Homo sapiens: one gene and its partners. The protein of the gene in region 3 interacts with the protein of the main gene of each other region in a pairwise test. Each region holds a gene or a part of one and is shown on either strand. Other genes may lie near its edges.

Evidence for each region.
Region 1: the proteins of TRIM55 (region 3) and WT1 interact in a two-hybrid assay, tested with the Homo sapiens proteins (one large-scale study listed by BioGRID and IntAct).
Region 2: the proteins of TRIM55 (region 3) and RAI2 interact in a two-hybrid assay, tested with the Homo sapiens proteins (one large-scale study listed by BioGRID and IntAct).
Region 4: the proteins of TRIM55 (region 3) and LAPTM4A interact in a two-hybrid assay, tested with the Homo sapiens proteins (one large-scale study listed by BioGRID).
Region 5: the proteins of TRIM55 (region 3) and MPZL1 interact in a two-hybrid assay, tested with the Homo sapiens proteins (one large-scale study listed by BioGRID).
Region 6: the proteins of TRIM55 (region 3) and RNF10 interact in a two-hybrid assay, tested with the Homo sapiens proteins (one large-scale study listed by BioGRID and IntAct).
Region 7: the proteins of TRIM55 (region 3) and HROB interact in a two-hybrid assay, tested with the Homo sapiens proteins (one large-scale study listed by BioGRID and IntAct).

Annotation. Positions count from the first base shown.
Region 1 is NC_000011.10:32,411,372-32,415,477, forward strand, and holds part of WT1 (Wilms tumor protein), read right to left. Parts: intron 1-4,106. UniProt on the Homo sapiens protein: Transcription factor that plays an important role in cellular development and cell survival. Recognizes and binds to the DNA sequence 5'-GCG(T/G)GGGCG-3'. Regulates the expression of numerous target genes, including EPO.
Region 2 is NC_000023.11:17,854,305-17,858,410, forward strand, and holds part of RAI2 (retinoic acid-induced protein 2), read right to left. Parts: intron 1-4,106.
Region 3 is NC_000008.11:66,144,129-66,148,234, reverse strand, and holds part of TRIM55 (tripartite motif-containing protein 55), read right to left. Parts: intron 1-4,106. UniProt on the Homo sapiens protein: E3 ubiquitin ligase that plays an important role in regulating cardiac development and contractility, muscle growth, metabolism, and fiber-type differentiation.
Region 4 is NC_000002.12:20,041,363-20,045,468, reverse strand, and holds part of LAPTM4A (lysosomal-associated transmembrane protein 4A), read left to right. Parts: intron 1-4,106. UniProt on the Homo sapiens protein: May function in the transport of nucleosides and/or nucleoside derivatives between the cytosol and the lumen of an intracellular membrane-bound compartment.
Region 5 is NC_000001.11:167,766,382-167,770,487, forward strand, and holds part of MPZL1 (myelin protein zero-like protein 1 isoform a precursor), read left to right. Parts: intron 1-4,106. UniProt on the Homo sapiens protein: Cell surface receptor, which is involved in signal transduction processes. Recruits PTPN11/SHP-2 to the cell membrane and is a putative substrate of PTPN11/SHP-2.
Region 6 is NC_000012.12:120,540,440-120,544,545, reverse strand, and holds part of RNF10 (E3 ubiquitin-protein ligase RNF10), read right to left. Parts: intron 1-4,106. UniProt on the Homo sapiens protein: E3 ubiquitin-protein ligase that catalyzes monoubiquitination of 40S ribosomal proteins RPS2/us5 and RPS3/us3 in response to ribosome stalling.
Region 7 is NC_000017.11:44,158,700-44,163,352, reverse strand, and holds the end of HROB (homologous recombination OB-fold protein), read right to left. Parts: intron 1,483-4,653; coding exon 1,421-1,482; 3' UTR 877-1,420; downstream 1-876. UniProt on the Homo sapiens protein: DNA-binding protein involved in homologous recombination that acts by recruiting the MCM8-MCM9 helicase complex to sites of DNA damage to promote DNA repair synthesis.

The DNA of each region.
Region 1 (4,106 bases), on a different chromosome or scaffold from region 3:
CAAAGCTATCATGACAACTTCGTGATGGCCTATAAATATGCATTTGCTGAATTGAATCTCACCTGAAGCCAATCATTTTTGTAAGAAAGAAAATGACACAAATGTACATGCATGGACAGGAAAGGGTCTAAAATTTTGTGCAACATCATTATCATCATAGTTTCATCTAGGCTTTTGGGGGGAGTTTTAATTTCCTTCTCTGCGTAGTTGTATTTTCTAACTGTTCTATAATTTATACACATTACTTACATAATAAAAAAATTCAATACATTCATCAAATGCATGTCCAAAAATAAAAGGATAGAAAAGGCCAACAGCCAGGGAGGAGAAAGAAGAAGCAGAAAAGTGAGAAGCAAAGGAAAGAAGCTTCCGAATCAGTCCACACTAAGTGAGAGGGACACAGAGCTAAGTCACGAGTCTCCATCTTTATCAAACCCTGGAGTCCCATTCTTCGTTCTGGTTGGCAGGGTTAACAGACCTCAGGCCAAGTCCAATGCAAGGCAATAATAAAGAAAAAAAACTCTTTAAATGGCATTAAATGAAACTTTAAACGGTGGAAAATTAATAACTTGTTGCTGGGGGTGGAGATGGAGTAGGCTCGGCAATGCTGATATTCACAGAACTGAGGCTCCCCACCTTCACTTTGCATCTCAGGCTCCGGGAGCCACTTAAAAGCAAGCTATCTATTTCCAAGAAGTAAATCTCTTGGACGGATACCTTATGTTCACGAGCCCGCGAGGGAAGGTGCTGGGCTGTGTATTGGAGCTCCCAGCCAGAGAAGACAGCTATCTCTTTTGGCACAGGTTCTCAGGGATGAGACCATGTCTAGCGGGGATTTTCTCCAGATTCGACAGCCTTGGCCCTACCAAAACGCACAGCTTTGTTTTCACCACACATCACTCATTGTTGAGTCTTTTTTGTTTTTCCTCTCAAGCATCCACAGGTTGAATACTGTGTGTTCCCAACAGCCTGTGAACTTCTTGGACCAGCAAAGGGACATTCATTTTGCTGAGCACTCCTTTCACATTTCTATTGTGTTCGATTTCCCACTCCCCCTACCCGAGTCCCCAGAGAATAACTTCTTCCTTGTTTTAATAACTTGGATCACAGTCAAGGTTGATGTGTTTCTCCATTTTGCAGGATATTTTCTTCAGAAGAGACAAAACAGAGGCCAACAGGGTAGGAGAGGCTTGTTCGGAAATCAGCAGCCATTGAGAACACACAGAAAATGTTTTCAAAGAAATAGAAAGCAGATAACACAAGGCACCATCAATAGAAGGCTTCAAAATGGTGGACTCATACTCAGAAAGATTCCCCAGCAACGTTTTCTCCCAGGGACCCACTTTAAAAATCTAATTTCATTTGTTTGGGGGTGAGGGAGAAGAAAGTACTTTCCGTAAAGTACCTTCTCACTGACTTAAATTGAAATACATTCTCCCATTGGAGGTCATAAAAGTAGCTGTGATCCCAGTGGGTATGCAGAAATTAGAAAATGAGTAAAGGGAGAAGGAGGAGAAAGGAGCGGTTCAGTCACACAAGTATATCCCACCTCTAACACAGCAAGTTTTCATTTCATCTGCCCATGTTCTTTATAAAATCCTATCCCCACCCATTGTAACACTGCTCCCTGACATCTAATGAAAGATGTCTCCGTGGACTTGCTTGGGATACAAGGAAACAAACCTATTCTTTGTGAAGCCACTTTTTTGAAACGAAACATTTTCAAGGAAAGAAGACCCGAACCAGCATTTAGTGGGGTTTAGTCTGAGGTGCATGATCTTTTAATAAAAAATTGATAATGCCTCTTTTTTATGAGTGATATGGAAATTACATCTTTCTTCTCTAAAACATGAACCAAATCACCAGTTTTTCCTGTAATAGATCAACCTTGTCACATGATTTTTCTTAACATTGATTTCAAACAGTGTCAAGACACTAGTTATGAATGAACACAAAAAGTTATGTGTCTGAATTTGTCTTCATGGAATACCTTTTCTCAAATGTATTCTCCATATTAATACTTTTCATACCATGGCAAAAGAAAGTAAATCCAGTATCACAAAGAACAATGACCCCAACCCAGATTGGTCTCCCCTGGGGAAAGGCCAAACTTTCTACTGGAATTACAGATTCAACTAAATCCAGTTCTGGGCTGTTCATGAGTTTGGAGGAGACAGCCAAGGTGTCACCATGTTTGAATGCTAAAAGTGAGGCAAACTGTGGGTCATGACACATCAGTGGGTTGTAAAATCAATCTAGTACATCACAATCAGCATTTTAAAAAATGAAATAGGATAGAGAGAAAAAGTCAGCATGCAGAGCATGTCATAAGAGTATTGCTCAGTGAAAATCTATGTTGTGTGTGTGTATGTGTGTGCACATGTGTGTATATGGGATCTCACTGTAAAGGGTATTTCTAACTGTGGTCACAGTCTAAAAGGTTTCCACCCATTTAAGAAGCTCTAATCTAGGGCCCAGGTCCTGGAGTCAGACAGAACTGATTCCAACATGGCTCTGCCACTCACTTACTATGTGACCTTGGTTAGATAGCTTAATCTCTCCACCTCCTCAGCTAAAAAATTGGATGTGGCCATAGTGTCCTGGGGGTGTTGTAAGATCAGATCAGAAGAGGAAACATGTACAGCCCCTCACACGGCACCCAATACTGTTTATATACATCCTTAGATAAATGTCCAGTTCACAAAATGGAAGCGGAAATTCGTGGATTTACAGTATGTTCTACAGTGTGAGAGAAGATGGTAGGCAATTAGCTAATTGTAATTTTTGCTCTGCAAAACAGTTGTTCTTTTGTGGAACTATCTGTTGGGCCATCTAGCCCTTTTTATAACAGCTCCCTGAATAAAGTTAATATTCGAGAAATATACATATATATTGTGTTTGTTTGTTTTGTTTTGTTTTGTGGAAGGGTCTCACTCTATCGCCCAGGCTGGAATGCAGTGGCCTGATCTTGGCTCACTGCAACCTCCGCCTCCCAAGCTCAAGCAATCCGCCCACCTCAGCATTCCAAGTAGCTGGGGTTACAGGCATGTGCCACCACGTCTGGCTAATTTTTTTGTATTTTTTGTAGAGAAAGGTTTTCACCACATTGTCCAAGCTGATCTCAAACTCCTGAGCTCAAGTGATCCACCCACCTCAGCCTCCCAAAGTGCTGGGATTATAGGCGTGAGCCACCATGCCAGGCCAAGAAATACATTTTTAGTCAGGGCGCAGCAGCTCATACCTGTAATCTCAGCACTTTGGGAGGCCAAGTGTGGCGGATCGCCTGAGGTCAGGTGTTCAAGACCAGCCTGGCCAACATGGCGAAAACCTGTCTCTACCAAAAATACAAAAATTAACCAGGTATGGTGGCAGATGCCTGTAATCCCAGCTACTCAGGAGGCTGAGGCAGGAGAATCACTTGAACCCAGGAGGCAGAGGTTCCAGTGAGCCAAGATCGTGCCACTGCACTCCAGCCTGGGTGACAGAGTGGGACTCCATATCAAAAAAAAAAAAAAAAAGAAATACATTTTTATTTCAGAAATCCTTTCTAAGATGTAAGTAACGGACCAATGAAAACTCTTCTCATTTTTTTCTTATGTAGGATTGAACAGAACAAATTGTTCACACTTTGTGCTTCATCCTTATAATACAGCTTCTGCCTCCTCAGCAAGTGACTAACAGTACATGTCTAAAGACCTTAAAAAGTATCGAAATTATCTTAACCATGGAAATATCCAGCTGCAAATACATGCCAAATTCCTTATCTGTAATTTTTGTAACTGAACAAACAAGCCCCTGTATTACAGCATGAAGAAGTTTTTGAAACTGAAATGTACTGCTCACTTCACAATCATGTTCTGTCTATCCTTGCTATTTAGCTTGGGGAAGGTTATCAAGTTCTGAGGAGAGGAGAAAGGAGAAAAGGAAGGGAGCCAGAAAGAAAGGGTGGGACCAAGAAGCCAAGGAACTTAAGACGAGTTAAGAACAGGTAGAAAGGCCAGGCACGGTGGCTCACGCCTGTAATCCCAGCACTTCGGGAGATCAAGGTGGGCGGATCACCTGAGGTCGGGAGTTTGACACCAGACTGACCAACATGGAGAAACCCC
Region 2 (4,106 bases), on a different chromosome or scaffold from region 3:
GGACTTTCTGCCTGGTTGTGCATACGGGGGTGGGGAGGGATTCTTCAGCCAATTGCTTTCAGAGAATCTTAAGAACAGGTGTTTCAGTTCCCTAAAATTCCTTTCATCCTAGAACATTCTATGTGGTTCTGCAGTGCCCCCACTTTGGGGATGGGCTTTGATCAGGAAAAACCTATGTTCATACAGTCAGCCTGGAGCTTCCAGGCTTAAAGCACGAAGGAAAGAATGGCTGACAGCTACACCATTTCAACCCTTCCAGGCCTCCATTTCTTTCTCTGAATTATAAGGGAAAAGTGGCCATACACACAAAGGCAAAAATAACAACAACAATAAAAACGCCCAAACACACCCAGTCTTGGCTGCCAGCACGGCCCGATTCTGCTGCTGAAAAAGAACAGTTGCTACAGTGCAGCTGGAGGAGCTTTTCCAGGGAACTGGTAATACCCTGGCTGTTAATGAATTATTTTTCGCCAGAATGTCGGATTCTTCCTGTGCTCCAGTAAACAGTCTGCTTCTGCCATGTGAAACAAAACCAACTCCTTCTGAGGAGCCCAAGGGGGTCAGCCAAGGGTCCCCTGTGAGGGCAGCCCCCTCAGGAGCCAGAGCCACAGGCGCCTGACCTGTAAATCACTGCAGTCCCAAGTTCATTATCCCATCCCTTTCCGTCTATTTATGCCATGACCAGTGCCTAGGGAAGGACCCAGAAATGATGTGATGTGATGATACCATAGTGCCAGCCAAAATCCTTCTTCTACCTCCCTGAACTCTCCTTTGGCCAGGTTTCTTCATCTGCTGTGCTATGGTTGTGTGAAATTGACCTTCCTTGCATTTATTCTGTCTCCCTCGCAGAAATTTTATTTATGTCCTTGCTCTTGTTCTCATCAAGCTGTCAGGAAATGACAGTGTGCATTCTCTTTTTTATTTTCTCTCCTTTAAGGCTGGCCCTGGCCCTAAATAACCCACTGTCAGCATGAGGGTGTCTACTGGCGACATTACTCTCCAAGCACAAATCCCTGGGATGGATAGTACTTTAAGCTGCTACTAGAGCAGGTGTCAAGGAATTCTCCGATGGACAAGGACACCGGCCTGTGGGGTGGGTGGGGTCGAGGAAAGGAAAGAGCCATTTCATTCAAGCCAGTCCTGCCTGTGCCCATTCTATTGGGTTTCTGGGTCCCACATTCCTCATAGAGCATGAGACTGAGCCAACATGCTCATGGCTAGTTTCCACGGGGAACCTCCATCATGGCACCTGAGCTACTGAAAATCAAAATCGCTTGATGCCAGGCTGCTGTGGCTACTGACTCAGCCCCCTGCCTCCCACCTGCCATCGAGATGGAGAGCGTTTATGTCCCCAGAACATCTGGAGGCTGAAGTCACGAGGTTGGTTAGTTTGCTCCAGAGCAGCTCTGTCTAATAGAAATGTTTATGTAATTTAAATTTTTTTTGTAGTCACATTTAAAAAAATAAAAGAAGCCACTAATTTTAATACTCTATCATATTTAACTAATATATTCAAAATATTATCATTTTACCATGTAATCAATGCAAAGCTTATTAATGAGCTATTTTGGATTCTTTTTTTGTATTAAGTCACAGAAATCCCATGCATCTGTTATATTTAATGCACATCCTAATTTGGACCAACCACTTTTCAAGCACTCTATGGCTGCATGTGGCTAGTGGCTAGTGTGTGGGACAGTGCAAACATGTGACATTTCCATCATCATAGAAAGTTTTATTAGACAGTGCTGTGCTGGAAGACCAAAAAGTTGTGGGAAGAGGAGTGACAGGTGTGAGCAGAGTGTGCTCCAAAGTTCTCTAGAATTACTGAGTTGTTGGAGCTAATTACAGCAGAAATTGGAATTACAAGGATTGGGATGTTCAAGGAGCCCAGCCCTATGTCTCAGTAGAGATTAAAATGGGCTTTTATGAAAGGCCCTGGGACCATGCATAGTCTGAATGTGTCTGTCCCCTCCAAACTCCTGTGTTGAAATCCTAATCCCCAACGTGATGGTATTAAGAGGTGGGGCATTTGGTTGGTGATTAGGTCGTGAGAGTGGAGCCTTCATGAATGGGATGAGTGCCCTTGTAAAAGAAGCCCCAGAGAGGTCACTTGCCCCTTCTACCATGTGAGGGCACAGCAAGAAGATGCCATCTCTGAACCAGGAAAAAAGCCCTCACCAGACACTGAATCTGCCGGTATCTTGATCTTTGACTTCCCATCCTCCAGAACGGTGAGAAATATGTTTCTATCATTTATAAGTCACCCAGCCTATGGGATTTTGTTATAGCAGCCCAGACGGATGAAGGCAGACCATGCCCATGTTTTGCGGTGCTGCCCCACAGCAGTGGGAAGGCCAGCAAGTATGATCATGGCTCAAGACATCTGCTGGCTAAGCTGCCTCCATCTTAGCTGTTCTGGTCTGTTCAGGGCAGGGGCTGGGAGAGAACACCAAAGTCACATACTTCTTCCAATAACAATTCTGGGTTTGAATCTAATTTGGTGAAGCAGATACAGAAACGTGATCAAATTATGTGTGCCTGTGTCTGTGTGTGCATGTGTGTTCGTGTGTGTGTTCTTGGCAGGAGAGAGGAGGGTCATGTGTGAACTCCAGAAGTACTAACCTGGCCGCCAAAATCAGCTTCTCACCAGCTGCCATCAGAGGACAGTGAAGTGGCAGACTCAAGAGGCTCATCAACATTGTGAGCCATGAAGGAAAGGCTTTGAGTCTGGAAAGAATGAGATGATGGGCACCCGGGCAGACGATCAGGTGGGAGGGAGAAGTGGTAATCAGAGGCATTCTCCAAAGACAAGAGCTGCCAACTCTACAGCAAGGATGTCACCCTGATCCCCAAATCAAGCTTAATTCAGAATCCCACGCAGGCTTTTGTGTGTGGGAAGAGTGCAATTAGCCATCTTTCCCCCTCATTCTCTGAGGTCTCCCTCATATTCTGTTCAGGGAGGCAGCATTGAGGAGCTCCTCATACATAGATTCAAAGCCCAGCTCCCTCGGTGGCTCCAGAATTTCTAGGAGTTTGAAGACTACCACCTGGTTGGAAGGGGGCTACGGGGCTTGCTTTAACGATACATTTGCATAGCAAGTTCCCTCCTCATTTTCCTATAGAGTGTTTGTTTATTTGAGACAGTTTCTAGTTAAAAATACCTCACCCAGCCTTTGGTCCCTCGTGGACTTTGAGTTAGTTGCTTAACCTTTCTGAGCCTTAGTTTCCTCACCTACAAGATGGGAATAATCTTGCCCATCTCCCATGGATTTTGTAAAGATTAAACTGGGGCTTGTCAGCATGGAGCTACCAAGGGCTAAAACTGGAATATGACACCAGGAACTTCAGGCCCCCAACCAAACGTACAAATCTCTGGATCTCTCCTTGCTGGGTCTCCCTTAACAATGATCTACAGCCCCCTCCCCACTGCCATTCACTCCATCAGTGCCATCATTTAGTCACTCAACTCTCATTTATTAAGCAACAGTTGGGTGGTGGGGACTCCAAGATGAAAGGGTACAGTCTGTCCATCTGACACAGGGTATTTCGGATCTATCTACTTGGCACATAAGTATGCACTGTGGGTGACTGGGTTGCCCACTGGTGGGCTTCCACCTTCCCCCCAATCCCCACCAACTGTGTACCAGATTTTGCCAAGGTGGAGGGGCTGAAAGATCCAGCAGGAAGAGATCCAGAGATTTGTATGTTTGGTTAGGGGCCTGGAGTTCCTGGTGTCATACTCCAGTTTTAGTCCTTCGTGGTTCCATGCTGACGTGTCCCACTTTAATCTTTACAACGTCTATGTGAGATGGGAAAGATTATTCCCATCTTGTAGGTAAGGAAACTGAGGTTCAGACAGGTTAAGAGAAATAAATAAGAGACCTGGAGCAGGGGAATAGGGACATGTTGCCCCTTTAAATCATAACCACCAAAGTCTGAAATCAGATACACAACTGGAAATTTATCTGAGCCTCAGATTCCTTATCTGTAAAATAATTCTTCCATCACAGGGTGGCTGAGAAGGTTTACCACATGTGAAGTGCCTAGCAGACAGAGGCCAACAATACATGTTAGTTCCCTTCCCAATTTATTTCCCTCCACTA
Region 3 (4,106 bases):
ATTAATTATCCAGTTCATCTAGTCATTGGCCTTTTGGTTTTTCAATCCCTGGTAAGCTTGGTGTGCATGTATGCCAATCTCCTTGGACTTGACCATCTCTGGGTCCAGGACCTTTATAGCTGAGAGCAGGTTGTGAGCCATAGTGATCTAACCTAGCTCTCCCGCACAGTGAGAGCTTCTTGGGAATCCAGCAAATTTATTTCTGACATCTCTGACCATTCTATACCCTTTATTACATATTCTTTCATTTTGGTAAACATTGAAGTCTTTTATGTCATGTATTGCTTTCTTCCTTTATGTGAATTTCTTAAATATCCAAAGTATATTTTTTTTGAGGGTAGAATCTGGGTCTGCCTAGGACACAGAGCACCTTGGATAGTAGCTGTTCACTAAATATCTGTTGAATAGATTTTGTGGTTTTTTTTTTTTTTTTTTTTTTTGAGATGGAGTCATGCTCTGTCACCCACGCTGGAGTGCAATGGCGCGATCTCGGCTCACTGCAAGCTCCACCTCCCAGGTTCAAGTGATTCTCCTGCCTCAGGCTCCTGAGTAGCTGGGATTACAGGCACATGCCACCTTGCCCGGCTAATTTTTGTATTTTTAGTAAAGAAGGAGTTTCACCATATTGGTCAGGCTGATCTCAAACTCCTGACCTCATGATCCACCCGCCTCGGCCTCCCAAAGTGCTGGGATTACAGGCGTGAGCCACCAATCCTGGCGGAATAGATTTTTTTTTTAATGTGTTTCATTTCCTCTCAATTTCTCTACTATTCTCAGTATGGAGTCAGGGAGAATGACCTAAACCAAATTGTTGATTATGAAGATACTCTGCAAATGTGCAAGAAATACATCCCTTACTCCATTGCCTTCCTTGGAACAGTCAATTCTCATCACAGTTCCCAACCAAATTATAATGCATGGAGATCCAGTGGTGCCAACTATTTTAATAGTAAATGCCTTACCACTGTCATCCACCCATTCATTCATGGATTTAACAAACAATGCATGTCATTTGTGTCAAGACTCTGGGGATCCAAAAAAGAATTAACATAGTTCCTATTCTCAAGGAGCTCACAGTTCACTGAGAAAGACTATAGACCAATAATGTAATTCAATATGGTAGGCTGAATAATGTAAATATTTTAGAGATTTATACCAGATGCTTTAGAAGCATTTATGGAATCTTTGTCCAACCCTTTGTGTAGGTGGAGGAACTTTGAGGGGAGCCAGAAATGTTGACTCAGGAAGAGTTTCTCAGAGGAATTAGTACTTGAACTTGACCTTAAGGAGGAATAGGAGTAAAGGAGGTTGAGGAGGGGATGAAAATGCTTGAAGTCCTAGCAGTTGTGAAAGTAATGGAACAAGGGCCCATGCAGCATGTCAAGATGTGGAAATTGCCTGGCTTGACAAATTTCCACTCATTTCCAGCCCTTTAGCTTGAGAGTCGGACTGTTCAACCAGGCCTAGAAACTGAAACCTATTAGTAGCTTTCCAATCAAACTCTCTTTCACTGTATTATCTTTTGTTCCAACCTTCAGGCAACCAGGTGCCCACTGTACACATGAAATAAGCCTCTCTGATATTTAGAAGCTCTACTGTGATCATATAATGGTTTCCAGCTTGTTTCTCCCAAATGAGTTGTGCACTTGAAACATTTATAATATGAGTATTATATTAAGATGTAATACAGGTAGAAAGTCTTTGATTCACAAAAATTTTCTCCTATGTGATTTAATATGTGAGAACATTCAAGTTTATGGCAGCCAAGTCATTTACAATGAGACAGATGTGAAGCATGTGTAATCTAGTGTACTCTCTCAAGTCAAATAAAGATTAAATCACTTATTTTGACCATATAATTTTTTTTGGCAGTTTAAATGGAATAACTAATTTCATTCCTATATTACTTGCAATTCCAAGCATTATTTTATTTCTATTCTGTTTTTTTAAATAACTTATATTGAATGTTAGTAAAACTACTATCATTTGTTTATACTTCATAGTGCAGGAAATGCTACCCCATATGCGGTCTATGCTTTATTAAAATTATTATATCATTAAATACTTTGTAAAGTGCTTATAATATTACCTGGCATATATTGGTACTGGATCAGTGTCTATTAAATTTAGGTACAAATTCCTTAACCTGAATTATTCAGTTGTGGAATTTTGAAGCTGCATGGAATATTAGAAGTAACCTGCTCCAAATCAATCATGTCACTCATGTGGAAACTGAAACCCAGCAGAGCTGTCACTTTCTCAAGGCCATCCGACCATTTATTATTGGTGCCTGGCCTACAGTCAAGGTCTTTGAACTCCTGGGTCATTGCTACTCTCACCACACCCAGCTGGGCCCATATTTTAAGTAACTTTAAAAAATTATATGAAGTGCTTGTAAATGGAATATATGCCTTTTAACAAATGTACTGGCCAGGTGCAGTGGCTCACACCTGTAATCCTAGCACTTTGGGAGGCCAAGGCTGGAGGTGGAGGCTGCAGTGTGCCAAGATCGCGCCATTGCCCTCCAGCCTGGGTGACAGAGTGAGACTCCACCTCCAAAAGAGAAAAAAAAAACAAAACCCAAATTCACTATGCTTAAGGTAGATTTTTTAAAGGCAAGGCATCTTAAATTGTTTCAGAATTATATTCCTAGTTCTTTCAACAAAATTCACCAACCACTGACTTTGTACCTGGCATTGTATGATCTAATAACCTGCCATAATTTTCCATTGTTTTGGAGAATAATGAACAAAAAAAAGTATCATAAATGATAAATATAAAATCATTATATTTTCTAATTCCTAATGGAAAAAACTTTTTTCTCTTGTTTAATTAGCTTTTAATATAATTCTATGCAAAAAATGGTAAGAGTTAGATAAATCTGTTTCTGAAACGGCAAAAATACATGCCTCTTCTTTGGAATTACGAAATTGGAACTTACAGACTTTTAGAAATTAACTCAAAATGTTCAGGTTAACCTAATGTCATATTCAAATGTGAAATACTCCATGAAATGAAGTCTCCTATTTTTTCACACTCTTTGAGGTAGAACCCACACACAAGAGACTAACTTAGATGTCCCCTAATCTTTCTTGGCTTCAAGACCATCAAAGTGCTGTGAAAGTCAGGGAACAATAAACACCTCAGGTTATCAATTTGCCCTCTAAGCTGATGAGGGAACAGATATGTGCCATGAAAAAAAAATGTTCTCAGAGGCCACCTAGCTACTGACAGTGATGACTCTGAATTTCAGTACCTACTGTGCCTTTGTTAATGTGAATCTGCAACACTTTCAGCAGTGACTTTCTAGCAGCCTGAAAAATGGAATAGGAAAAAATGTGGACTTTTGCATTGTGAAAACGTCTGCAGACAGAACACTTTAAAGGACTGTTGTTACCTACAAAAGCATGATAGCAACCATATTTGTCTCTTCTCCACAAAAACTTCCTCATCTCAAAGACTGCTCCTTGCTTTTAGCATACTTTTTCATTTACTTGAGTAAAAAGGTATGTATCTTTAAGACCAATTCGGAGCCATACACCTCCCCTCTTCTCTGGACAGTAATTCAATCAAGATATACACTTTTTGAGCTTTCGAGTTTATCTTTTCAAATAGTCTCCATTTTCTTCCTTTTGATGTCTGTGCTTCCTACATCCTCTGTGTGTGCACCTGTGTGAGTGTGCTTAGCAAGTGAAGTATACCTCCACCATAAATGAAGTAGGTATTGGTCTCCGGGTATACTCTGATGCAAAGCCTCTGGCTGCTGCACAGCCTTCCTCCTGGGTCTGCTAGGACAGTTATATTTCTTGGCTTCTTGGGAGAACCAAATTAAAGTTGTCTATAATATTTTAATGAAAATAAAATTCATCCCATTTCTAGGGAGAATGCAGTGTGGATGCAATATACCAAAAAGGGATGATTTTATAAAGTGAAGATCATCCCTCCCATATTGAAATGGTAAGATGATGATGGGTGGGATATTTGTTTCTAACCAATGCCAACATTTCTGGATGTAAAGAAAAAAAATCAAATGGTCATTTGGTTGTTTCCTTAGAAGTGAGTAGGTAACATTTAACATTGACCTAAAGCCATTGTTGAACTGTTGC
Region 4 (4,106 bases), on a different chromosome or scaffold from region 3:
TTTAAAGAGATGGGGTCTTGCTATGTTGCCTGTGCTGGTGTGCAATGGCATGATTATAGCACACTGCAGCCTTGAACTGGGCTCAAACAATCCTCCCACCTCAGGCACCTGACCAGCTGGGACTACAGGCACACACCACTGTCCCCAGCTTAATCATTCTTTTTAAATTACATTTTTATTAACTTTCTTTCCTGAATACAGTGAAAGGAAAAAGTGAATCAGGAATAAATATTTGTAATAGTTAGTACATAGTTGGATATTTTCAGAGAAATTTTGTATTGTAAGATTACAGTTAATTTTATGTATTTTTTGAAAAGCTAAACATGTAATTTAGAAATATCAACTTTAATCAGAGATAAGTTGCCAGGGCTTACATGTGAGCACAAGGTAGGCGTTCGTTGGTGAATATCTTTAAGATCAAAGGATGCCAGGAGCGGTGGCTCGTGCCTGTCATCCTAGCACTTTAGGAGGCCAATGCAGTAGGATCACTTGAGGCCAGGAGTTCAAGACCAGACTGGACAACATAGTGAGACTCCATCTCTACAAAAAAAATTTTTTTAAGTCACAAGGATGGGTTTTCCAGTGTAATACTTTAAGATGTAAGTTGGGGTTCTAATGAAATGATGTGATCTAATGGAATATAATTAACTCAAAGAAGATTTGGAAAAAGCTTTTAATGAAGTAGCATTGAAATTTATTTCACTGTTTCTTGGTCCTTCTGATTGGCCCTACGATTTATTTTGTTTAATATTTAGTGGTATGACCCACAGTGAAATTAAACTTGAAGTGTCTCTAGTACTAAAAGAAGATAATAGTGGATGAGCGTGTGACTTATCCATGGAAGAGAAGAAAAGTGAAGAGTTCTTTTGTTTTTTAAGAGACAGACTTAGTATTGTTGCCTAGGCTGGTCTCCAGAGCTCAGGCGATCCTTCCCACCTCAGCCTCCCAAGTAGCTGGGACTATAGGTGTGAGATTTTTAGAAATCCTTCATGTAATAAAAATATTTAAGAAGGGAAAATAGAACTCCTAAATGTTTTTGGCATGTCATTCCCTTCATTTAGTAATTGGGTTTGCATGCTTTTCTTGACAAAGGAATTTCTGTACCGCAGAGAGCTTTTTCACTGTGACTATGCTGTGTTTAGCAAAGAAGAGTTTGCCTAATTGATTTCAAACTGATTTCCATACACAGAACATATAACGTTTTAGTAGATATATCTGATAGTTCAGTAATTAATTCACCTAGTTGTATTAGCTCATACTCATACACCACACACGCTGGCCAAAACCCATTGCAGCAAATGTGGGCAACAAAAAAAATCAGCTTTCAACTGGGGAGAGCCACCTTGCAAAAGTGATTGTTCCTGGTAAGTCCTCTCAAGAATTGAAAGATATCATGCCTTGCCTCTGAACAATGCAAGGAAAGAGGCTTGCTGCTGAACATAGACAGTAAAGTCTAAACATTTTATAGCCTTAGATAATGGTTTCTTTGGGAAAGACCTTAAAATAGGAGTTACTGGGGAATGTTTATTAATAATCACGTAGTGCTGAGAAGGAGGATGTCTTAAAAACCAGACTTGTGTCCTGATTCTCCCATCTGTCAGCTCAGCAAGCTTAACACAAGTTATATAGCTTTACTGAATCTTAAGTTTCCCCATCTACACATAGGCTTTGGTAATACTTACTTCACGGGTTGTTGTGAGGAATAAGTGAAGTAATACACGTAAATACACATGTCATAAAGCATATCCTCAATAAATATTGGTTGATTCCAAATTTCATATTGTGGCATTGTTTAGATCACCTACCCTAAAATAAAACTTGATCTGCTTATCTAGCGGATGTTAGTGAAATGACTTCAGCTGATAAAAGGAAAATGCATTTCCTGTGTGTTTATCATTCAAGGTGAAACAGGAGAGAAGTATATAATAGTTTGTTTAAAATACTATCGATAGCTGGCCGACACAGTGGCTCACACCTGTAATCCCAGCACTTTGGGAGGCCAAGGCTGGTGGATCACTTGAGGTCAGGAGTTTGAGACCAGCCTGGCCAACGTGGCGAAACCCCACCTCTACTAAAAATACAAAAATTAGCCAGGCTTGAATGGTGCACGCCTGTAGTCCCAGCTACTCGGGAGGCTGAGGTGTGAGAATGGCCTGAACCCAAGAGGTGGAAGCTGCAGTAAGCCGAGATCGTGCCACTGCACTCCAGCCTGGGTGACAGAGCGAGGCTTGGTCTCAAAAAAAAAAAAAAAAAAAAAGGTCCCAGCTACTTGGGAGGCTGAGGTGTGAGAATTGCTTGAACCCAAGAGGTGGAAGCTGCAGTGAGCTGAGATTGCGCCACTGCACTCCAGCTTGGGTGACAGAGCAAGGCTTGGTCTCAAAAAAAAAAAAAGTCCCAGCTACCCCGGGGACTGAGGCAGGAGAATCGCTTGAACCCAGGAGGTGGAGGCTGCAGTGAGCCGAGATTGCGCTACTGCACTCCAGCCTGGGCGACAGAGCGAGACTCCATCTCAAAAACTAAATAAATTAAAATACTACTGATAGGAACTTAACCCTTGAAAATTCCAGATGTTCACATTTTCACAAAGGGAAGGAGGGCAAATTCTGTGAACTTTACTATGCTAGATAAGGAAGCCTAACTCCAATCCTACGTGAGATTTCTGTCTTGAGTCGTTAACAATACTCTTTCTGAGTACTTAAATGCAGTGAAGCCTCCTGGGATACCACAGGGATTGGCCAACAACTACAGGCACAACTCATTTCCTTTTAAAATGGATTTACAACCCTGGGAGACTAGGAAAATTCAGATATTATAATGGGATTTCAGCAGGCTGTTCCTCTAAAGAGCTAAACAATTTTATTCAGAAGTTGCTAGTTAATGGGAAGGGGCAGCCTCTGGCAGCTTTGTCCTCACCTCTGTTCTCTTTTGTTAGTAACTTAGATGGAAATACTGATTACATGCTGATCCTAAATTCAGGAAGTTGAGACAGTAAATCTGTAGTGTGTCAGAATCCACATCCAGAAAATCTTCATAGGCAAGAATGTAATAAGATGAAACTCAATTACAGGTATATTAAGGCCTATGCTTGGGCCTCTGAATCCAACTGTACAGGTGGGAGCTTAGCACAATCAAGTGTGAAAAAGAACTTGGTGTTTTAGGGAGTTACTCTCATGTGATATTCAGAAAATTTGTAAAGCCAATGCAGGCTGGGTGCGGTGGCTCATGCCTGTAATCACAGCATGTTGGGAGGCTAAAGCAGGAGGATCACTTGAGGCCAAGAGTTCAAGACCAGCCTAGGCAATATGGTGAGACCTTGTTTCTAACAAAAACAAAAAACCTCAGTACAACTTCAGGTTGCATTAATTGAAATTCGTTAGCCAGAATATGAGAACTGAGATCCCATTATGTTCTGACCAGGGTGACTTTACCTCATTTTAATATATGTCCATCAAACTGGAGCATGTGTAAAGAGGAAGACAAAAGGGAAATAGGTAGCTAGGAAACATGCTAGTCAGAGGAATGGCTTAAAGATCTGCATGTCTATTCTAGAGAACACAGTATTTGGAGGCTGTTTTCAGGTATTGGAGCACTTATTTAGAAGGGAGAGCACATTATCTCAAAAGGTAGATTTAAGGCCGGGCGTGGTGGCTCACGCCTGTAATACCAACACTTTGGGAGGCTAGGGCTGGGTGTATCACTTGAGGTCAGGAATTAGAGACCAGCCTGGCCAACATAGTGAAACCCCGTCTCTACTAAAAATACAAAAATCACCCGCGTATGGTCGTGGGCACCTGTAATCCCAGCTACCAGGTGGCTGAGGTGGGAGGATCACATGAGCCTAGGAAGGGGAGGCTTCAGTGAGCTGAGATTGCACCACTGCACTCCACCCTGGGCAATAGAGTGAGACTCCATATCACACACACGCACACATACACATACACACACACACACAAAAGTAAGACTAGTAGATAAGTGACTTTCAGTATCTTGGTAAGTCTCTTAAGCATTTGAGTCTAGCTCTAGAGGAAATAGTGAGTTCTCTGTCACCTGATGAGAGATGCTGTGGAGGGGTTTCGGGCATCTGATGAATAAATATAACAGATGAA
Region 5 (4,106 bases), on a different chromosome or scaffold from region 3:
CTTGGTTCTGGTCTGTAAAATGGAGACGATAAAACCTCCCACACAAGGGTGTTAGGAGGATAAAGTAAGATTATTCAAGATAAGTGCTCAGGAGAGTGTCTAGCTCTTGAGTTACTAAAATACACCATTTGTTGTTACTGTTGCTCTCCCAGCATGTGGAATGCCCTTCATATATTGGCACATATTTTAGTACTGTTGCATGTTTCAGGTTGTCAGTGTTTAGCAAGGACAGTCTGTCATCTATCTTTAAGAATGCCCAATTCTTCTTCTGAATGGTGAGTTACATTGTTGATCACCACCTAGATGTTGGGCCCATCATATGCCTATGCCATTTAATCTTCACAGCTCTATGAGGAAGACAGGGTGGGGAGGATGGGAGACACTGACTCAAGAGTTATTCACCTGTGGCCATACCACACAGGTTAGAATTGTTTAAACTTCAATACGGTATGATTTCCCTTATGTATTATTTCTCTCTCAGGTAGAAAAATCTGCTAATAATATTTACGGCCTCATAGGTTTTAGGGATTACCTAAGGCAGTGCTTCTCAGTATTTTTTAAAATTTATTTTTAAAAGGAGCCTTTTCACATTTTTCTTAATCTCTGCCCCCTTCCATGAAATTTTAATATTGTAGATATCCTCTGCAACTGTTTTACATATAAAAGAGAAAGATTTTCTCAAAGCTTCCCACCCAAGAGCCAGTGTTTGCTCCCTTGGGGGAGAATCTCCCCTATGGAGAATGCATAGTCTAGAGGTCTTTATAAGAGAGGCCTTCCCTTACAGTAGCCATAAGGGTGAGCACAGGAATCCATACAGATACCATGGAAAGACATAAAGAGGCATTCTCTGCTTCACGTAAATATGGCATCAGCATAGAACATACACTAATGTTCCCATAGAGGCAAGATTAAACACATAAGTTTACTCAAGAGAGTCCAAAGAACTATTTAAACATTTAAAGATTTCCCACTGAAGTCTTCTGCAAGAGTGGGTGTGAGAGCCACCCAGAGGTAATAACTTTCTTTTAAAGAGCGGTTCCATTTATGCTGGAAACAGTCTTGTCGTGTAGGTCCATGAAGGTTTACATAACTCAAAACTTAATATTAAGAACATGCTGTAATTCTGATTAATATTTTTAGCTAATCAATTTATACTTACACACGAGTCTGATTGCAGTTAATCCCAGCATGTTCAGTTATTGACATAGGATCCTTTAATTCCAAAATGTCGGGACACATTTAATAAGATGAGTGGGTTGCTTTTTTGTTTTTATAGGTTTTACAGGAAAAGTATATTCAAACCCAGTATATTCAAAAGCCATACTGTGGATGGCTTTTTTGGCCCATGGCCTTGGGATCCACATGTCTGAAACTGAACTCATTTTTTCTCCCTTCTGTTTCCCTTTTCTGCTTTTTTTTTTTTTTTTTTTTTTTAGGTTAATTGTGTTCATCTGCAGATGAGTTTTGTAATCATTTTGTTTTGTTTTGTTTTGTTTTGTTTTGTTTTGTTTTGTGTTTTCTGTCCTTTCCTTCCCTGTCCCTTACCACTTCCCTTCTGCCCCCAAGAAATAAGAACCTTTGCTGGTTCTTCCTACTTTGTTTCTGGTGTCTAGCTTTTTGTCAGCCTTCCTGTGTCTCTGCTGTCTATTGAGCAATGTTAACTGTGTGCCTGGTCTTGTGCAGTAGCCCCTTGTTATTCTTCTGCTTCTGTTTTTCTCATCTTTCAATCCAACCCTCATATGCCAGCAGGTGCATAGTCTTAGAACAGCTCTTTCACCTTGCCACTGCAGGTTATCAGGAACCTAGATTCCCATTGTGGACAACATTTGTCTAGAATTAAAAGCTCATTACAATTTGGCCCAGCCTACCACTTTAGCCTCACTTCTGTTCTCTTATGGCATCACTTCCAGTTTAGTAAAAATGCTTTGTGCTTTGTTTTCCTACTTCTGAACACTTGTCATTTAAGCTGTACCCCATTTTTACCCTCTGTCTCCTCCATAATGCCTCTTTTTTTTTTTTTAACCTTTTAGCCCTTAAAACTCACTACCCTTATCTGGGCCATTCCTATAATACAGATCCCTTAATATGACAGTTTTCCTCTTCTTCCTGAATATGGGTGTTTTAAGAGGACTTGCCTGTCTTACATCTTTAGTATACCTCATAGCTTTAGCACCATGGCTTGTACTTTAAAAATATTGATTGATAATGATTCTAGTCTTTTCTGTGAATTTTTCACTGTTTTATTTCCATCTCTCACTGGTTTGACCAAGACGTTATTCCTCAGTTTGATTCAGCAAACTATGTAGTTCCTGCTGTGTCCAAAGTGCTAAGGAGTACAGAGATAAATACATCTTATCCTCTGCCTTCAAATGGCCCCCATTCAATGAGGGAGCCTGACTGAGGGAGCTGTCTCAGACCCAGTGCTGAGAAACAGCATCATGTAGCTCATCCCCGCTGGTTCAGAAATGCAAGGCAGGGAATATGTGGAGATGTTGTGGGAAGGGAAGGCAGAGAGCAGGTGATGGAAGGATTCATTTGCAAAGCTGAGAGTTTATGGTTCATTTTCTAGTGAAGAAGAGAGAGTGAAGAACTTTGAACAGATAAGACATGATCTCACCTGAGAGGCCTTAAACATTGGAAATAGCATAAGCTTTGAAATCAGAGCTGAGTTTGAATTCCATCTCTAAAACCTGTGACTTTGGGAAAGTCACCAAGGTTTCCTGAGCCTCACATTCCCTATTTATGAAATATCAGGTAGGCGAATCTCACCTTGCAGGGTGGTTGTGAGGGCTAGAGAGTTGTTGGGAGACAGTTTTCTATGGGTCTTTCACGTTTTTGCACACCTTGCTAGCAAAGGCACTGGCTGCCTTTGTTCTGGACTTTTTTTATACAGTAACTAGCTTTGGAAGGCAGAGATGATGTTACCCTCTGGAGCAAAGGACAAATTTGTGTATTCTTGAGTATAGTAAAGGTAGTGTCTCCTTTCAGGGCTGAAGTCAGACATGTCTTCTGCCCCTTGTAAGAGAATAGTGTTCCCTGAGCTTGGGGTTCCTCGGCTGTGATGCAACGCCTCTGCCTGCACAACATCCATGTGAGCCCCTCCATGTCATGGCTATGGGACTTGCGGGGCAAGAGAAACAAACACATGCTTTCTGCTCATAAGGTTCTTTGTTTCTGAGTCTTCTTCATGGGAGTGAAGATTTCACAGGAGTCCGTGTCTTCTGTCAGCACCTATGAACCTGTGGCCAACTAACTTTGTTAGCTTGTAAGTAGGGTAAAATCTCAGACCCTTCACGGTTCTTAACAAGCATTTAGGTCATATGAAATGCAGGGTAAATATTTGATAAATGTTATAATAATAACCATTATTCTTTATCAGTGATCATTTAGGCATTGTGGAAGATGATGAGTTAGACATACCAGTTAAGAGGCCATAGTCCAAGATGATGAAAACATAAAAACAGATATTGTCAGTGGGAACCGAATAGAGAGAAGAGAGAACTGAGAGAAACTAATGAGACATTGACAATATTGGGGGATTAACTGGATAGGAAGAAAGAGAATCAAGGATGACTTCAAGATTTATGGTTTTGGAAAGAAACAGTAGCCATCAGTGAAGACACGATACATGAAGAGGGGAAGATGAAGTTTGTAAGAGAGGGTGACAAGCTTGGGGGAGAGGGGCAGCCAGGTGGTAAAGTGAGTAGGCAAGGAGTCTAGAGCTTAGGGGACGCTATTGATGGAGAGAGAGGTTTGGGAGTTAAGAAAATCTAGATGATCATTAAATCATAGGAATGGATGAGTCTGCACTGGGGTTTTCACCGTGCTCAAAGGGTTCTGAAAATGTTCTGTTTGAATTGCTAATAGAGCTGGTTTCTATCCCCAGCTCCACCATCACCCCGTCCATTAACCAGAACAAAGACATCAGGCCTCCAGCATAGCTGCTTGGATTAGAGCCAAGTGTGAGGATAGATCCCCTCCCACTGGGCCTTAACCCTGCTTCCAGGTGCTGAGTTTGACAAGGTTTACTTTGAGAAGACAGTTCCTTTGCTGAAAGCAGGACTGAGGAGAGACTGAGGAGTGGAAAGAGAAAGGGGCTAAAGGCT
Region 6 (4,106 bases), on a different chromosome or scaffold from region 3:
AGCTGAGACTACAGGCACTCACCACCATGTCCAGCTGATTTTTGTGTTTTTTGTAGAGACGAGGTTTGCCTTTGTTGCCCAGGCTGGTCTTAAACTCCAGAGCTCAAGTGATCCATCTGCTCGGCCTCCCAAAGTGCTGGTATTATAGGCATGAGCCAACACTCCCAGCCAATTTTTTTTTTTTTTTTTGTAGAGTTGGGGTCTCACTTTGTTACCCTGATTGGTTTCCAACTCCTGGACTCAAGCAATCCTGCCTCGGCCTTCCAAACTGTTAGGATTAAAGGCATGAACCACCATGCCTGGTTTATCTTTTTTTTGTTTTTAACAGTCTCACTCTATTGCCCAGGCTGGAGTGCAGTGGCGCAATCTCGGCTCACTGCAACCTCTACCTCCCGGGTTCCAGCAATTCTCCTGCCTTGGCCTCCCAAGTAGCTAGGATTACAGGCATGAGCCACCACGCCTGGCTAATTCTGTATTTTTAGTAGAGATGGAGTTTCGCCACATTGGCCAGGCTGGTCTCGACCTCCTGACCTCAAGTGATCCACTCACCTCGGCCTCCCAAAGTACTGGGATTACAGGCATGAGCCACCATGCCCAGCATGTTTTATTCCCCCAGGGTGGAAAGCAGTGGTGCCATCATAGCACACTGCAGCCTCAACCTCAGCTTAGCATCTTTCCAACTCAGCCTCCCAGCTAGGACTGCAGGTGTGCACCACCACACCCAGCTAATTTTTAAATTTATTTTGAGACAGGATCTTACTTTTGTCACCCAGGCTGGAGTGCAGTGGCATGATCTCGGCTTACTGCAGCCTCCAACTCCTGGGTTCAAGCAATCCTCCTGCCTCAGCCCCCCAAGTAGCTGGGACTCCAGGCATATACACCATTCTTGGCTTAATTTATATTTTTGATATAGACGGGGTTTTGCCATGTTGCCCAGATGGGTCTCAAACTCCTGAGCTCAAGCGATCCACCAGCCTCAGCCTCCCAAAGTGCTGGGATTACAGGCGTGAGCCATCAGGCCCGACCTAATTTTTAAATTTTTTTGTGCAGACGGGGGTCTCACTATGTTGCCCAGGCTGGTCTCAAACTCCTGGGCTCAGGCGATCCTCCAGGCTCAGGTGATCTTCCCACCTCAGCCTCCCAAAGTGCTGGGATTATAAGCATGAGCCATGGGGTCTGGCCCCACTTTTATCTTATTACAATGATTCTCAATCTTGCCAGTTCATAGGAATCACACAGATGAGCTTTTACGGAATTCCTATGCTCAGGCCTCACCCTCTAAGATTCTGATATAACTATACTAAAGTACCTGTCTGCAGACCTGTAATATTATCTGAGTAATTTTTTTTAAACTTAGAAAAAATTATTTCTTGGTAAGTACAATCACCAGCTTTTTATAGCAGGCTAAATAAATTCAAGGTTAAACAATGCCTCAGAAAGAAGAAAATGTAAGTTAATAAATCAGAGACCAAATTTTGAAAGCAACCACTTCACGCCCATAGTCTGTCAACCTCACTGTATAAATGAGATGTCATTCTCTCCAAACCTGACCACCTAAAACCTGGGAGTCAATCTAAACCATGTGAAATGGCAGCAATGTAAACAGAACAGTCACAGAAACAGGCTAGGTTCACTCCTACCAGTTACCCTTAAATCCTGCTTACGGACAGTGACCCTTACCTTAGTTACAATTTAAGGCCAGGCATGGTGGCTCCCTGTAATCCCAGCACTTTGGGAGGCCAAGGCAGGCAGATCACATGAGGCCAGAAGTTCGAGACCAGCCTGGCCAACATGGTGAAGCCCCATCTTTACTAGAAATACAAACATTAGCCAGGTGTGGTGCCACACGCCTGTAATCCCAGCTACTTGGGAGGCTAAGGCATGAGAATCATTTGAACCCGGGAGGCAGAGGTTGCAGTGAGCTGAAATCACGCCACTGCACTCCAGCCTGGGCAGCAGAGTGAGACTCTGTCTCAAAAAACAAATAAATAAAGTTAGAACTTAAAAACTAAACTTTTACCTATTACTTCAGTTAGCAACAGTTAGTGTCAAACATGGCACTAGTAGTAACAATTAGAAAGCAAAGTTTCAGCGCTGGACTTGGTGGCTCATGCCGGTTGTCTCAACACTTTGGGAAGCCAAAGCAAGAGGATCACTTGAGTCCACGAGTTTGCGACCAGCCTGGGCAACATAGCAAGACCCCATCTCTACAAAAAATTTAAAAATTAGCCCAATGTGGTGGCACACACCTGCAGTCCTAGCTGAGAGGCTGAGTTGGAAGGATTGCTTAAGCCAAGGTTGAGGCTGCGGTGTGCTATGATGGCACCACTGCTCTCCACCCTGGGCTACAGAGTGAGCCTCTGTCTCAAAAAAAGAAAAAGGCCAGGCACGGTGGCTCACGCCTGTAATCCCAGCACTTTGGGATGCTGAGGCGGGTGGATCACGAGGTCAGGAGATCAAGACCATCCTGGCTAACATGGTGAAACCCTGTCTCTACTAAAAATACAAAAAATTAACCAGGCGTGGTGGCGGGAGCCTGTAGTCCCAGCTACTCAGGAGGCTGAGGCAGGAGAACGGTGTGAACCTGGGAGGCGGGGCTTGCAGTGAGCCAAGATTGCACCACTGCACTCCAGCCTGGGAGACACAGTGAGACTCCATCTCAAAAAAAAAAAGAAAAAGATAAACCAGGCACAGTGGTTCAAGAGTTCAAGGATCTCTTAAGCCAAGGAGTTCAAGGTTTCAGTCAGTTATGTTTGCACCACTGCATGCCAGCCTAAGTGACAGAGCGAGAGCTTGTCTCTAAAAAAAAAAAAGCCAGGCACGATGGCTCATGCTTGTAATCCCAGCACTTTGGGAGGCCAAGGCAGGTGGATCACGAAGTCAGGAGATAGAGACCATCCTGGCTAACATGGTGAAACCCCATCTCTACTAAAAATACAAAAAATTAGCCAGGCTTGGTGGCGGGCGCCTGTAGTCCCAGCTGCTCGGGAGGCTGAGGCAGGAGAATGGCGTGAACCCGGGAGGCGGGGCTAGCAGTGAGCGGAGATCGTGCCACTGCATTCCAGTCTGGGCGACAGAGTGAGACTCCGTCTCAAAAAAAAAAAAAAAGGAAAACTCAGGGGATGCAGAACCCCAGCTAACTCAGCCACATTCTCTTGCTTTGCTTTCCTTAACTCCATTTCACATCACCTCAAGCAAAGGAGATTCTACGAGGATAGGTATATAAAGAAAACACATATCCTCCAACCTCATTATCCAAGACTGTTTCAGATGATCCTGGACCCTACCTGTTTGACCCTAACTGCTGCTTTCAAGATGCACCTCACGGTTTGCATAGATTTAGGTAAAGCCAGATTCTACATGGCAAGGGCTTATTAAGAAAGTAAAATGGCCAGACACGGTGGCTCATGCCTATAATCCCAATGCTTTGGGAGGCCGAGGCGGGCGGATCACCTGAGGTCGGGAGTTCGAGACCAGCCTGACCAACATGGAGAAACCCCGTCTCTACTAAAAATACAAAAAATTAGCTGGGCATGGTGGCGCATGCCTGTAATCCCAGCTACTCCGGGGGCTGAGGCAGGAGAATAGCTTGAACCCGGGAGGTGGAGGTTGCGGCAAGGCCGAGACTGCACCACTACACTCCAGCCTGGGCAACAAGAGCAAAACTCTGTCTCAAAAAAAAAAAAAAAAAGAAAGTAAACTGGCACTCAGCAAGAAGGCTGTCTTCATTTCTTCACTTATTACCACACTGGCAAGGAAACAGTTTCATAATGCTTACAGAAATGCTCACTGATAAGACAGTAAACTGCTCATTTCCAAAACACATAACAACTGACCACATCATGATTAGTGATTTTAGTTGCCAAAATCAACTCGTTTCTCGTCTTCCAGTTACCTAAGGGTATGAAGACAGATATGTCAAGTGAGAGACTGGCTCTTATCTCTAGACCCAGGCAAAAGGCAGCTAAAGGTTGAAGGTACCATCAGGCCTGGGACCCAGAGATAAAATTCAGAGTATTATTTTTGAAATGTTTTGTGGACAACTTGCCAGGATATACATGGGAAAAACTCGAGGGTAGAACAGGAGTGATAAGATGATCCACTTT
Region 7 (4,653 bases), on a different chromosome or scaffold from region 3:
AGTACAGTGGCGTGATCTCGGCTCACTGCAACCTCTGCCTCCTGGGTTCAAGCAATTATCCTGCCTCAGCCTCCTGAGTACCTGGGATTACAGGTGCGTGCCACTACGCCCCGCTAATTTTTGTATTTTTAATAGAGACGGGGTTTCACCATGTTGGCCAGGCTGGTCTCGAACTCCTGACCTCATGATCCGCCCACCTCGGCCTCCCAAAGTGCTGGGATTACAGGTGTGAGCCACCGCGCCCAGCCGGCAGGAAAATCTCTTGAACCTGGGAGGTGGAGGTTGCAGTGAGCGGAGATTGCGCCAGCCTGGGCGACAGCGAGACTCCAGCTCAAAAATAAATAAATAAAATAATATTAACTGGGAAACTGGGTGTGGGGTATGTGGGAACTCTCTGTACTATCTTTGCAATAAATAAATCTATAAATTTAGAAGTCTAAGGCCGGGCATGGTGGCTCACGCCTGTAATCCCAGCACTTTGGGAGGCCAAGCGGGGTGGATCATGAGGTCAGGAGATTGAGAATATCCTGGCTAACACGGTGAAACCCCGTCTCTACTAAAAAAAAAAAAAAAAAAAAAAAATCAGCCGGGCGTGGTGGCAGGAGCCTGTAGTCCCAGCTACTTGGGAGGCTGAGGCAGAAGAAAGGCATGAACCCGGGAGACGGAGCTTGCAGTGAGCCGAGATAGCGCCACTGTACTCCAGCCTGGGTGACAGAGCGAGACTCCGTCTCAAAAAAAAAATTTTAGAAGTCTAAAAGTATATAAAAAAGAAAAAAAAAGAGAAAAAGAGTTGCCTGAGCCCTTTTGTGGCCACACAGCACTGGCAGGGCAGTTAGGCAGGAGCAGCAGGGGGTGGAAAAGAAAGGGAGGCAGAAGAAGCAGGAGATGCTTTATTTCAGAACAAGGTACAATAGGCCACACCTCTGTCCTGCACCTGGGAACCTTGGGCATGGATGAGCAGAGCAACCACAGGTCTGAAGAGACAAAGCAGAGGAAGCCTGAGCGTGCTTCTCCCCTGTGTGGAGGGGCAGGCCGCCATTGTTGTGGTGTGGCTCCTTTCATCTCCTCAGCTGTCCAGGGACTAGGGTATGAAGGGACAAGAAAACCAGGCCCAATATCCTCTAAAATTAAGCTGAGGCAGGAGAGGGACACCCAAGGCGAGGGTGACAGGCCTTTCTTGTTGGCTGGAGAGCCAGTCTCCGGCCGGATTCTGGTGCCAACGGCAAAGGAAGGCCCAAAGTGAGGGCAGCGCAGAGATGAGGGGGCTCTCAGGGAAAACACCCAGGGTGGGAGCAACCACAGAAGCCCCCCGGCTGTGTCCACTCTCCAATCATGCTGGCCTTCTTCTCCCCCTTGGATGTGACCAGACACATGCCCAGAGCTGCCTGCTCATGGTGGGTTGTCCTGCGTTGGGGCAGTCTCAACTACTGGTCCCACAGAAGAAGTCTTCAGGAAGCTCACTCAGGAGTCCATCCAGGTCATCTACAGAGAGGGGAATGATGGGTAGCCTTAGTGACAACATCAGCATTCCATGTGACTCAGGTCCAAAGTTTCTGCCCTTCAGGAGGGCCTGGACCTGGCTGTATAGCTGGGCAGGCGGCTCCTCCAGGCAGTGGTACCCATGCCAATGGGCCTGAGGCTGGCCTGACTTCCATCTTCCCTCTGCTCCCCTTGTACCCGTACATGACAAAAGGCGGGGGCGTAATCCCTGGGCCATTCTGACGAGGAAGAGGATTCCCCTGAGCCTCACTGATTCCTCTCCTTCCATCCAGTCATAGTGCCAAACAAGAAGGCTTCAGAGGTCACCTAGTGCAACTCTCATTGGCTGAAGGAGAAAGAGGGCTGGGAAAAGCCATCAGATGTGTTCAGAGTTACACAGTTCCTTAATTGGCTTCTCATCTGACAGTGGAAAATATCACCCCCTTCCTCAAAGTGCCTGTGTAAGACTACAGTTCTCAGATGTGGTACTTATGTCCGAGAACTTGGACACAGCTGACCTCGATAATCCCTAGCAATATTATTTACTAGCAGCAGCTAATACTGACTGAGTGCTTGCTCTGTGCCTCAATAAACATTCATAGGTAGGGCATCTCCAGTTAGCTCCTGTTATCAACCCCACTTTACCTGAAACAAACTTTTTTTTTTTTTTTGAGACAGAGTCTCACTCTGTCGCCCAGGCTGGAGTGCAGTGGCGTGATCTCGGCTCACTGCAAGCTCCGCCTCCTGGGTTCACACCATTCTCCTGCCTCAGCCTCCTGAGTAGCTGGGACTTACAGGCGCCCACCACCACGCCTGGCTAATTTTTTATATTTTTAGTAGAGATGGGGTTTCACCGTGTTAGCCAAGATGGTCTTGATCTCTTGACCTCGTGATCCACCTGCCTTGGCCTCCCAAAGTGCTGGGATTAGAGGCATGAGCCACCATGCCCGGCCCACCAGCCCTAATATTCTATAATCAACTCTCTGTCACTACCAGCAACCTTCTGGTGATGCCTTGGCTTGTCTCACAAAGAAAGAGTGCAGGCTTCCAGGCAATGCAAGATTCCAGGATAAGAGACATATGCTTTTTCACAAGATATAATGGCCTTTGTGGTTTATCCATTGGTATACTGTGAATTAGGTAGTGTGAGAACACCTATCCATAATTGTGGGTGGAAACCTACCCAGGTGCCAGGGCAAGAGACTGAAGGCACAAACTGTTCCAGTATAATAAAGAAAACAGAATAAGAAAAGTTATACTAGAAATAGGATATAGAGATGATTATATATGGATTTTTTTTATTTTTGAGATGGAGTCTTACTCTGTCGCCCAGGCTGGAGTGCAGTGGCACGATCTCGGCTCACTGGAAGCTCCGCCTCCCAGGTTCATGCCATTCTTCTGCCTCAGCCTCCCGAGTAGCTGGACTACAGGCGCCCGCCACCACGCCTGGCTAATTTTTTGTGTATTTTTAGTAGAGACGGGGTTTCACCATGTTAGTCAGGATGGTCTCGATCTCCTGACCTCGTGATCCGCCCACCTTGGCCTCCCAAAGTGCTGGGATTACAGGAGTGAGCCACCGTGCCCAGCTATATATGAATATTACCAATCATTAGTTTTTAATACTAATCTCTGTATTATCATTATAACCGAGAAAAAAAACAGCCAGTACAGAGTCAGGAGCTGAAGGCACATTGTGAGAAGTGAGCAGAAGACAAGAGTGAAAGTCCTCTGTCACGCCCTGATAAGGGCTGCCTGATGACACCTTGGTCTAGCAGTAGCGCCAGTGCCTGGTAAGGCACCCGTTACTTAGCAGACCTCAGTCTTGCGGTAGCGCCAGTGCCTGGGAAGGCAACTGTTACTTAGCAGACTGGGAAAGGGAACTCTCCTTGGGGGAGTTCGAGAACACTGCTCCACCAGCTCTTGTGGGAGGCCTGACATTAGCCAGGCCTGCCCACAATCATCTGGAGGCTTCAACGTCTCCCTGTGATGCTGTGCTTCAGTGGTCACGCTCCTTGTCCACTTTCATGTTCCGCCTGTATACCTGGTTCTTCTTTTAAGTTCTTGGAAGATAGCAGTAGTGAATTAGTGAAAGTATTAAAGTCTTTGATTTCTCTGATAAGTGCACAGAAAAAACGCTGACATATGCTGTCCTCCCTCTCTGCTTCAGCTACCACAAAGGGAAAGGCCCCCATCACGTGGACACGTGACTTGCTTGACTTTATCAATCTTTTGAGATGACTCACACTCCTTACCCTGCCCCCTTGCCTTGTATACAATAAATAGCAGCGCATCCAGGCATTTGGGGCCACTACCGGACTCCACGCATTGGTGGTAGTGGCCCCTTGGGCCCAGCTGTCTTTCCTACTTTCTCTTAGTCTTGTGTCTTATTTTTCTATAATCTCTCGTCTCTGCATACGAAGAGAAAACCCACAAGGCCCAGTAGGGCTGGACCCTACATCTGGCACCCAACTCTTGTCTTCTGGTCACTTCTCACAATGTCCCTTCAGCTCTTGACTCTATATTGGCTGGTTTTTTTCTCAGTTATAATAATAATACAGAAATTAGTACTAAAAACTAATGATTGGTAATATCCATATATAATCATCTCTATATCCTATTTCTAGTATAACTTTTCTTATTCTAACTATTTTCTGTATTATACTGGAACAGTTTGTGCCTTCAGTCTCTTGCCTCGGCACCTGGGTAGGTTTCTGCCCACATATAATCCTGTGAACTTTGGGGCCAGACAGGATTGAATTTTTGGAATTGAAAAGCTAAAGACCAGGCTGGGCACGGTAGGTCATGCCTCTAATCCCAGTACTTTGGGAGGCAGAGACAGAAGGATCGCTTGAGCCCCAAGAGTTCGAGGCCAGCCTGGGCAACATGGCAAAACTGTCTCTACAAAAAATTTAAAAATTGCTGGGCATGGCCGGGCGCGGTGGCTCACGCCTGTAATCCCAGCACTTTGGGAGGCTGAGGCGGGCAGATCGCGAGGTCAGGAGATCGAGACCATCCTGGCTAACACAGTGAAACCCCGTCTCTACTAAAAATACACAAAAAATTAGCTGGGCATGGTGGCGGGCGCCTGTAGTCCCAGCTAATCAGGAGGCTGAGGCAGGAGAATGGCATGAACCCGGGAGGCGGAGCTTGCAGTGAGCTGAGATCGCACCACTG